3 linked regions of the Homo sapiens genome follow. The protein of the gene in region 1 interacts with the protein of each later gene in a biochemical or structural test. Each region holds a gene or a part of one and is shown in the gene's direction. Other genes may lie near its edges.

What was found.
Region 2: of the proteins of PHLPP1 (region 1) and PRKCB, one has a biochemical effect on the other in vitro, tested with the Homo sapiens proteins (one study listed by IntAct).
Region 3: of the proteins of PHLPP1 (region 1) and CSNK1A1, one has a biochemical effect on the other in vitro, tested with the Homo sapiens proteins (one study listed by BioGRID).

The regions. Positions count from the first base shown.
Region 1 is NC_000018.10:62,970,434-62,974,086, forward strand, and holds part of PHLPP1 (PH domain leucine-rich repeat-containing protein phosphatase 1), read left to right. Parts: intron 1-2,080; coding exon 2,081-2,275; intron 2,276-3,653. UniProt on the Homo sapiens protein: Protein phosphatase involved in regulation of Akt and PKC signaling.
Region 2 is NC_000016.10:24,090,930-24,094,582, forward strand, and holds part of PRKCB (protein kinase C beta type), read left to right. Parts: intron 1-1,861; coding exon 1,862-2,018; intron 2,019-3,233; coding exon 3,234-3,368; intron 3,369-3,653. UniProt on the Homo sapiens protein: Calcium-activated, phospholipid- and diacylglycerol (DAG)-dependent serine/threonine-protein kinase involved in various cellular processes such as regulation of the B-cell receptor (BCR) signalosome, oxidative stress-induced apoptosis, androgen receptor-dependent transcription regulation, insulin signaling and endothelial cells proliferation.
Region 3 is NC_000005.10:149,509,927-149,513,579, reverse strand, and holds part of CSNK1A1 (casein kinase I isoform alpha), read left to right. Parts: intron 1-370; coding exon 371-510; intron 511-1,707; coding exon 1,708-1,786; intron 1,787-3,626; coding exon 3,627-3,653.

The DNA.
Region 1 (3,653 bases):
TTCTATTAAGAATCACTGTTCTAAGGTGATTTTTAAAATAAGAAAATGAGGCTGGGCATGGTGGCTCATGCCTGTAATCCCAGCACTTTGAGAGGCCGAGGCGGGCGGATCGCTCGAGATCAGGAGTATGAGACCAACCTGGCCAAGATGGTGAAATGCTGTCTCTACAGAAAATACAAAAATTAGCTGGGCGTGGTGGCGGGTGCCTGTAATCCCAGCTACTCAGGAGGCTGAGGGAGGAGAACCACTTGAACCCGGGAGGCAGAGATTGCAGTGAACCAAGATCACACCACTGCACTCCAGCCTGTGTGACAGAGTGAGACTCCATCTCAAAAAAAAATGAAACAAAAAATGAGGAAATGTTTCTGTTCACTCACCTGGCTGTCATTATCGTTGTGCTTCATTCTTTTGTACAGTTCCGGATTTCCATCTAGTGTCATTTTCTTGTGCCTCAAGGATTTCCTTTTCCATTTCTTTAGTGCCATCCTGCTGGTGGTAAATGCTTTTATTTGTGCATCTGGAAATGTCTTTATTTCCCCTTAACTTTTCAGAGCTGTTTGTACTGGCTTAGAAATCTAGGTTGTTTTCTAGTTGTTTTCCGTTGGTACGTTCAAGACGTTGCTCCACTGTCTCCTACCAGGTTTCCAGGGAGAAGCCTGCTGTTGGGCACGTCCTGGTTTCCCCTGCTCTACCTCCCGCCTTTGTTCCTGGTTTCTAGCAATTTGATTTTGATGTGTCTCAGTTAAGTCTTCTTCATGTTTGTCTTGCTTGCAGTATCTGTAGTTTTATAATTTTCTTCATATTGGAAATGTTTTCAGCCATCAACTCCTCAAAAGTGTTATCTGTCTCTTCTTTCGAAGACTCCAACTCCCTATAGTATAGTAGGCTGTTTGAAGTTATCCCACCACTCACTAAGGTCCTGGCCTTATTTTTTTTTTTTCCCAGTCTTTTTTTTTTCCTCTCTGTTTCATTTTGGACAGTTTCTGGGACACAGTTGCTTGGAAACAGTTTGATTCTTTTGAGTTTGGAGTGGAGACAGTCTCCAAACTTTCCACATTTGCCGGGAACCACTATCCTCCTCCAGTGCACTGACTGTGGACTCTGGCCACCTTGTCCTCCTTCAGCCCCCAGCTCCATCTCCTCAATGCACGGAGACCACAGCCTCCACCTGGGTCTTCCTCCCTGTGCTGCAGCCTGGACACTTCCCCAGGAGGAAGCTGGGCGGGAAGCAGGCTCTCTCCAGGATTACTGACCTGTGCTCTTATTGTCCAGTTGGGGTTTGTTTGTTTGTTTTTCCTGCCTTTTAAAAAGGTCATTTGAAGGCTGGACATAGTGGCTCACACCTGTAATCCCAGCACTTTGGGAGGCTGAGGCTGGCAGATTGCTTAAGCTCAGGAGTTCGAGACCAGCCTGGCCAACATGGTGAAATCCCATCTCTACTAAAAATACAAAATTAGCTGGGCATGGTGGCATACTCCTGTAGTCCTAGCTACTCAGGAGGCTGAGGTGGGAGAATCGCTTGAGCCCTAGAAGTGGAGACTGCAGTGAGCCGAGATCACACTACTGCACTGCAGCCTAGGTGATAGAGGGAGACCCTGTCTCAAAAAAAAATAAAAATAAAAATAATTTTTTAAAAGTCATTTGAGGCTTTTTCTGTATTTGTACATGCTTTTCATATAGGTTTCGTCTATTTTTCCCAGTGTTTTAGTTTTCTATTTTGGCTGGATGTGGAGATTGTGGTTAATAACTGCTTATTGAATGTATGTGTAGATATGGATTCATAATCTTCTCTTATTTCCCATGCCTCTTTTTCCCCTTCTGTCACTGACATTTAAAAATAAACTCATCAGAAGAGAAGCATGTAGGAAGGCATGTGTGAAGCATAATTTGTGCTCATCCTTCTCTGCTTATCAAAATTGGCTGTTGGAAATTAGCTGGAGTCAGTTTACCTGCCCTTAATCTGTCTGGAGTCATGAAGAAAGAGACAAAACTGAGTTAGGAAAATCTTGAAATAAGCACTGGGCTGGGCCTGGAGCAGGAGGATGAGTGGACTCAGCACAGAAGTGTGGTTGCCTTGCAGGTTGTGTGTCGCAGCCCTGTCGGTGAATAACTTCTGTGACAACCGCGAAGCCCTGTATGGTGTGTTTGACGGAGACCGGAATGTGGAGGTGCCCTACCTTCTCCAGTGCACTATGAGTGACATTTTGGCTGAAGAGCTGCAAAAAACAAAAAACGAAGAAGAATACATGGTCAATACATTCATTGTCATGCAAAGGTAAAACTCAGAGTTCCTGCTTACCTGCTGTGTGTTTTCTTGCTCTTTGAGTGTTTATCCTCTGTTTAGAAAAGCAGGTGCCCAATGGTCTCCAAGCCATGTTTTTTGACTATGAGTACCAAGATGCATTCAGGCAAGTTTGGTGTTGCCCAGGCATCAGGAATGGTGCTCCGGTTTGAGACATACTGATGTTCAGACAACTTTGTAGAAGGCTCAGACAATGACAAGGAATTAGTTTCTCTGAGAACTGGACCTCACTGGCCTGTGTTGATTGCAGATTTTCATCAGATTGTTTGCAATGCCATTTCTCCTCCCAAATCATGTGAGCTGTAGGGGCTTTTTAGACTTTCTGTTGTGGGGACCTCTCTTTGAAATGGACCGTTTCTATCCTAGTTTCTTGGCCCTTATGAAATACTATCACTGGTTTGAGATAGTGCAAACCTTTGTGAAATCAAGATGGTCAGATTTTAGCCCAAGAGTTAAATCATTCTTTATATTTTGTTTTCTCCTTTATTAAATGTTCAAGACAGTGTTACTGGCAGAATCCTAGGCCATAGCCTGGAGTTGCCACCAGCAGCAGAGCTTTAGGTTGCTGTAGAAATTGTGGAATATTGTTTGTAACTCTTAGAGGAATGAGGATTCCTTCATTCAGAGAATTGTTTATTCTTACCACCTTCATGGCTTTCTAGGTAATAATGGAATTGCCTGTCTATAAGTATTGTGCTGCAGACTCACTCATGTGGGACCCAGGAGTGATGAATGTACTGGTATTTGAGGTCATGAGAGCAGTCATGGTGTTTTATCCTTATCTGCTCTTTCTCTCCCTTGATATTCTGCCAGAGCAAGTAGCTTTGTTAGAGGGGTAGAAGTGGTGTCTGGGGAGGAGTGTTCAGAGCAGCCTTTACAGTGATACCTGCATCACAAATGGTTCCTCTCAGAGAGCTTGGTGGAGGCAAGCCTGGGGTGGTTCTTGCTGCTACACTCACCCCTGACTTTCAGATTCTCAGTGAGCATATACAATTAGCAACTGAACAATAATGGCTAATATCCAGCAAGCCCTTAATATGTACCAGTCATTGTTCTAAATTACCTTATGTGTCATAAATTGTTACCAGTTAGCTGGGTAATGTTACTGAAAGTGATGTACAGTGAGGTGAAGCACAGTGCCTACGGGCTAATAGGTAGTGCAGCCAGGACCTGACCTCAGGTTGTGAGACTCCCTTCAAAGGATGTTGTAACTAGCAGGCACATCAGCTTTCCTGTTTTTACCACCCTTTTGTTCTAGAAAAACAGCAAGCATGTATCATATGCACACACATACACATGTGCATACAGACCACAGCACAAACACATCCCTTCACAACCCCCAAAAGGTCTG
Region 2 (3,653 bases), on another chromosome or scaffold:
TTTACAAAATTTCTGGTTTTATTTATGCTGTGGATATTTTTCCAGCCTTTTCCCTATGGGCTGTCTGGGTGCAGGTTATGGGTGATACATGGATAATAGGTGCATCTTGGTTTAGAGGGTAACTCTTTATTTCTTACTGCACTTATGGAACACGAGAAAAAAAAGTATTAAATAATGGCTATGGTAATGGATATCTTTGTCTTATTCCTTACTTTAATGGAATTGCATTTATCATGAACCATGGTGCTGTTATTTCAGATAGCCTTTATCCTGTTAAAATTCTCTGCTGTTTCTAGATAACTACAATGATCTTATGGTTTTCTTCTTTGATCTATAAATATGATGAATATATTGAAAATAGATTTCCTAAGATTGAACCATCTTTGCATTCCTGATAGGAGTCATTATGTATTCACCTTTTAGCAGATAGTTAGAGTCGATTTGGATTGAATGTATTACTGTGGATTGTTCTACTGTAAGTGAGATGATTGACATTGTATCCTTAAGAGCTGTGCAATTCTCATTTTCTAGTCTGCTTCCATTGACTACCTGCATTACTGGTTTCTGAATTGATTCCTAATTAACTACTTCCTGTTTCTCCAAGCTGATGATTTAGTCTCCCTCATCCTTTCTATAGCCAGTTGCATCTTCACTGCTGATTCCCTGCCTCCTTTTCTCCTGTAAGTTCATCTTTTTTTTTTGACGGAGTCTCACTCTGTCGCCCAGGCTGGAGTGCAGTGGCATGATCTTGGCTCACTGCAAGCTCTGCCTCCTGGGTTCATGCCATTCTCCTGCCTGGGCCTCCCAAGTAGGTGGGACCACAGGCACCTGCCACCATGCCTGGCTAATTTTTTTGTATTGTTAGTAGAGACAGGGTTTCACCATGTTAGCCTTATAGCCTCTTTACCTGGGTGTTCTGGAGTCAGGGTGGAGCTGAGCTCTAATGCTGCTGACATTGTTCCAGCCTTCTCTCTATGGGCTGTCTGGGTGCTGGTTATGGGTGATACATGGATAATAGGTGTACCTTGGTTTAGAGGGTAATTCTTCCTTTCTTTAGCTTTTTCTTTTTGAATGGAGGTAAAATTAACGTAACATAAAATTAACCATTAACTGTTTTTAAACGTACAATTCAGTGACATTTATAGAATATTCACAGTGTTGGACAACCATCATCTCTATCTAGTTCTCAGAAATTTTCATCACCTCTAAAAGAAACCCTGTACTCATTAAGCAGTCACTCCCCATTTCCCTTTCCCTCCAGCCTCTGGCAACTATTAATAGTAGTCTACTTTCTGTCTCTATGGATTTACCTGTTTGGGATGTTTCATGTAAATGGAATCATACAATATGTGACCTTTTGTGTTGGGGTACACAAATGTTCATAGCAGCAGTATTCACAACAGCCAAAAAGTGGAAACAACCCAACTATGCATCAACTGCTGAATGGATAAACAAAATGTGGGATATCTATACAATGGAATATTATTCAGTCATGCAAAAAAATGAAGTGCTGATACATGCTATAATGTGGTGAACTTTGAAAACGTTATGCTAAATGAAAGAAGCCAGCCTTTCCTGTGGGCTTTGTGGAAAATAAGCTTAGAAAACTTACAGTTAATCTTGGTATGGGAAGAGCAGTGTAAAAGTCAGAAATCCATTTTTAACCAACACAGACCAGAGTTGACATCTTATCAGCCCATCTCATTTTGTGCACTGCTTCAGCTATGGATGTTAATAAAATTAAATTTCTCACTAAACAAGTGTGATGCCAAAGAACCTTCCACAAGTTCTGCAGCTGTCACTGCTTGGTGCTTAAACATGTTGGACAGTATTAATGCAAAAACTGCTTTTTCTTTTTCAGTAAGAGATGCTAAAAACCTTGTACCTATGGACCCCAATGGCCTGTCAGATCCCTACGTAAAACTGAAACTGATTCCCGATCCCAAAAGTGAGAGCAAACAGAAGACCAAAACCATCAAATGCTCCCTCAACCCTGAGTGGAATGAGACATTTAGATTGTAAGTGGAAATGACTGCAGTGAGCATGGGTGGTGGAGGTTGGGTTATGTGCCACCTGAAATCAGGGAGTTCCTCCTCCCTTAGCTCCTGTTTCCTTCCTTCCCTACCTCCCTCCTTTTCTGTCTTCTCCATCCCTCACTCCTATCTTTCCCTCCCTTCTTTTCCATCTGCAATTTTGTATTGTGAGCCAAGAAAAAAAATTAGAGCTATTTTTTTAATAGAGATGAGAATGCCTGTGGTGTGGGGGAGTGGGTAGGACAGGAAATGGTGTGATGTGTTGCTAAGTGAAGGCAAGTTGTGGGAGAAATGATGGGGCTCAGCAAATAGGGGAACATAACCTACAGGGTGTGGTGACAGCCTCTCTAGAGTTGGGTTTATGGATGATGCTTGGCCTGCAGCCTTCTGGGACATCTCCACCAGCCTCCCTTGAGGGTCTTCCCTGGCCAGGGCTCCAAGAATCTGGGAGTCTCTTTCTTGTACATCTAGGCATCAGGAGTTGGTTATAACAGCCAATTCACTGAGCATATATGATGTGTGACAAACACTGGGTTAAGCGATCCGACTTCATCGGCTCATTTTATTCCCAATGTAGCAATAGGGCTTATAGAGGTTAAAGAGTATGCCCAAAGTCCCATAGCAAATATGGGGTGGAGTGGGATTCAGCTTCTGGCAGTCTGACTTTAGCGGTCATACTTTTTTAGCCACCAGCTAGAAGCACAGTTCCTTGTCCTGTCTCCTCTTCCCTCTCTCAGGGCAAAGCTGGGCCCCTTCTCAGCCTCAGTCAAGGACATGTCTCAGAACAGACAATTTCCCCAGGATTTTTCTCCATGCATTTCCTCAGCCTCATTCTCAACCCACCTGTGTGCAGATATACACATGTACACACCCAATTATGCAATTGATATCTGTATTTCTTATAGGCAATAGGAATTCCTGAATATCCTGAACCCTATTAAGACATAAGATAACAAAAGTAGTTAGAACTGTTCTTGTCATAGCCAGTCTAAGACCTCTGCCTGTTTAAGCCACAGGCTGTCAAACAGAAAAAGCTCTCACTCCCTGGAGAGCTAGCCTGGGATGGAAACTGAATATGTTTCTTTCAGCAGCTTGTAATCTTTAAAACTTTCTACCTCCAGGTCTTGTCCTCTTGTACATTTATTCTGCTTGAGAAATTACTACAACCTCCACTGATGTCTTTTCTTTTTCTCTATGCAGTCAGCTGAAAGAATCGGACAAAGACAGAAGACTGTCAGTAGAGATTTGGGATTGGGATTTGACCAGCAGGAATGACTTCATGGGATCTTTGTCCTTTGGGATTTCTGAACTTCAGAAAGCCAGTGTTGATGGCTGGTAAGTAAGATTTTGCCTTGAAAGCTACCATACAGCTTGCTCCATCAAACGCGGGGTCAAGTATGTTTTCCTTTTTCTCCAAAAATTGAAATACTAAAACAGAGTCCCAAAGTGAAGTCTGGTTGATTGGATCTGCCTTGCAGATATGTTTTGTTTGGTCCTTGTACTAAAAACAAAAAAGAAAGAGGCCAGGCCTCGTGTCTGACACCTGTCATCCCAGCACTCTGGGAGGCCGAGGCAGGTAGATCACTTGAGCTCAGGAGTTTAAGACCAGTCTGGGCAACA
Region 3 (3,653 bases), on another chromosome or scaffold:
GTAGTAACAGGTGTACAGACTATCAGGTGTCATTATGACAGATAGCACACTTGTTGCTTCTGCTGTCAAGCATGTATACATTTCTTTCTTTATAAAGACAGGTTCCTGAGTATGTAATGAAATGGGCCTGTGAAATCTGCAAACGACAAGGATAAACTACTAGACTTTTTTTTTTTAACTTGATTTATTGATGAAGACTAGTAAAAGCTTATGGGGGGGTGTTAAGTCTGTTCATTATCTGTTCTATTAATACTTAGGATACTTTATTTTGATATATTTGAATGCATAGAATAGATACCATTTAATGAATAAGACGCAGTTTAATTGAACAAGGTTGGAAACCTAATGTTTCTGTATTTCTCTTTTAAAGTTATTCCTTATTGATTTTGGTTTGGCCAAAAAGTACAGAGACAACAGGACAAGGCAACACATACCATACAGAGAAGATAAAAACCTCACTGGCACTGCCCGATATGCTAGCATCAATGCACATCTTGGTATTGAGCAGAGGTAAGTTCGAAAATGGAATGTGCTTATCATAGCCATAGCAGAAGCCATCAATGGGTTTTTGAAATATTTTAGTTTCTTACAATGTCTAAGGATGTTTCTTGGCTGAGGATTTGAAGGATGCTTATTAATCATTTTACCTGCTGCTTTAACCAGTGTAGAGAAGACCGTTAAATGAGGTCTTCTGGATTTTTTGTTGTTGTTGAAGGTTGTCTCTTGGGGGGAAAATACTGCGTGATAGAAAGTTAGAAGCATAAGTGCAATGTTGACGTTTCTTTTTGCAGCTGAAGATAGTACATATATTTTTAGAGCTATTTGGGGCTTTTTATACTTTAGTAATTCACGCTGAGTTTGGGAAGAATGCATTATTTATTTTTAAAAGGAAAATGTTATCAGTGTCCTAATAAACCAAAAGTGGGTTGATGGACCATCTCCTGTTATACTTCACTCAAATATATAAATTAATAGGATCTAGTTTAAAGTAAAAAAAGTAACAGTCTCTGCTCTCTTCCTATTTCTTCACATGAGTTCTAGAGTTTCGAGTTCCTTTCATCTTTTACAGTCACTTTTTGCTCCTTAAAACTAGCATAGAAGTAATAAGTAGAAAAAACAATGATATGCCTCCAGGTTAAAGAACCTCATACCAAGAATTTCAGGCTTAAGAAATATCCATGAATATCTGAATGATCTAGGTTAAACTGTAATGTCACTTTTTCTGTACGCCAAGGCATTACCTATCCTTAAATATATATATATCTAAATATATATTTGTATGTATGTGTATATAGATATGTATGCATGAATACATTCATATAGATGTTCAATTAGTTTTAAGTTGTAACTCCTTTTCAGTACTTCTGAAGTTTTTTTTTAATGAGTTTCTGCAAAACATAGAAATGTCATCCTGCTTGGTTCATTAAGCTCATTTAGAGGGTTGTTTAGCCAAATCGTTTCTGTTCTTTTAAAATTAAATTGTAAGACAGTTGTTTGTCAGATTTTGGATTCCATGGAAAAAGTTTTGTTTAGAGGTAGGTAACACATGAACTTTTTAAAATCACCTTAAATAAGTAGCTTCTTGCGTAAGACACCAAATAGTGTTCCCTCCTCATTTGGGAACATTTCTTCTGGGTACTTGACTTTCTTTCATATGTTTTTTCATAATAATAGTTCCAGTTTATAAAATTACGTTCTCTTTTCTAGTCGCCGAGATGACATGGAATCATTAGGATATGTTTTGATGTATTTTAATAGAACCAGCCTGCCATGGCAAGGGCTAAAGGTAAACCAGACTCACATTATCAGATTTTTCTCTCTCTTTTTTAGAATAAAAATATATATTGGAGAAGATAAGATTTAAGGTCCCTTCTAAGTCTGAGATTTTTCTGAGATATAAAGAATTAACCTTAATTTACTTTTTACCTTTTATCTGGGAAAATGAAACCAGATCATTTTAGTAAGAACTTAGTTCAGCTGAAGAACAGTGTCCTCTAAGAGACAGTAAGCTGGTACCCACTGGTAGCCACTAGCTCTATCTAGATGGAAGTGGGCATGGACTAAGAAAGGTGGAGACTTTCTCATTTTGATGTGTTGCCATTATGTTGAAAATGTATGTTTTTATGTACAGCAAGACCTGTTTATCCAGCAATACATGTCCTAACATTTTGTTTCTATTAGCTAGGAGTTTACTGTTACTTTTGTGAGTGTATGTTAATGATAAATCACCGTATCCTAATTTTGGGTGGGGGTGGGGGCATGGGGAATGGTCTTGCTCTGTTGCCCAAGCCGGAATGCCTGGCTCACTGCAGCCTGAACCTCCTGGGCTCAAGCAGTCCTCCTATCTCAGCCTCCTACCTGTAGCTGGGACTACAGGAACATGCCACCATGCCCAGCTAATTTTTAAATTATTTTTTGTAGAGACAGTGCCTCACTGTGTTGCCCAGACTGGTCTCAAACTCTTGGGCTCAAGTGATTCTCCTGCTTCAGCATCCCAAAGAACTGGGATTACAGGTGTGAGTCACCACTGTTGGTGTGTCCTAAATTTTAATGGCTATTTTGGTACCTTACCAGTTCTTTGAAGGAATACCTGTATTTATTGAGTGGCTGTGAGCTAGTTGTAGTGCTCAGTCCTTGGGTGGGTAGCTTTATCTAATATGAGTATTTTTAGTTTAGAAAAATATTGTGACTTATACAGTTAACTCCATTTATTAATGTCACTAATTGATGAACAAATTTTTTTGTATTAATCTGATGCCTTTGCCCTTGTGTTGAACATGGGTTAAGAAAATGCTTTTCAGGCTGAGCATGGTGGCTCATGCCTATAATCTTCAACACTTTGGGAGGCCCAGCCAGGCGGATCACTTGAGCCCAGGAGTTCAAGACCAGCCTGGTCAGTATGGCAAGACCTCACCTCTACTTTAAAAAAAAAAAATAGCAGGGTGTAGTGTCACATGCCTGTAGCCCCAATTACTCAGGAGGCTGAGCCGGGAGGATTGCTTTGAGCCCAGGAGTTCGAGGCTACAGCGAGCTATAATCGAGCCACTGCACTCCAGCCTGGGCAACCGAGGGAGACCTTGTCTCAAAAAAACAAACAAACAAACAAAAAAACAAAGAAAAGGAAAAAGGAAAGAAAATGCTTTTCAGCTGGGTATGATGATGCACACCTGTAGTCCCAGCTACTTGATAGGCTGAATCAGGAGGATTGCTTGAGGCCAGGAGTTGGAGGCCACAGGGAATTACTGCTGAGCCTGTGAATGGCTACTGCACTCCAGCCTGGGCAACATAGTGAGACCCCATCTCCTTAAAAAAATATATAGAAAGAAAGAAAATGCTTTTCAATTTTGGCCCCAGCCATTTTTACTTAAATCTAATATCCATATATTCCTATTAGACTCACCCTTTCCCTATAGCTAAAATTAAATTCTTAGAGAAGAAACTTACATCAGAAGTTAACAGTTTGGGAAAAATTTTTTTTAGATGTATTATACTTTGATTTTTTAAATTCTGGGTTAAAATTTCTCTTGAATCTCACAGGTATATGTTTATATGTCTAGTGCGTTAAACTACCATGGTTCTTCTCAGTAGCACTGAGTATATCTTTTTTATTTTATTCTTTTCCACAGGCTGCAACAAAGAAACAAAAATATGAA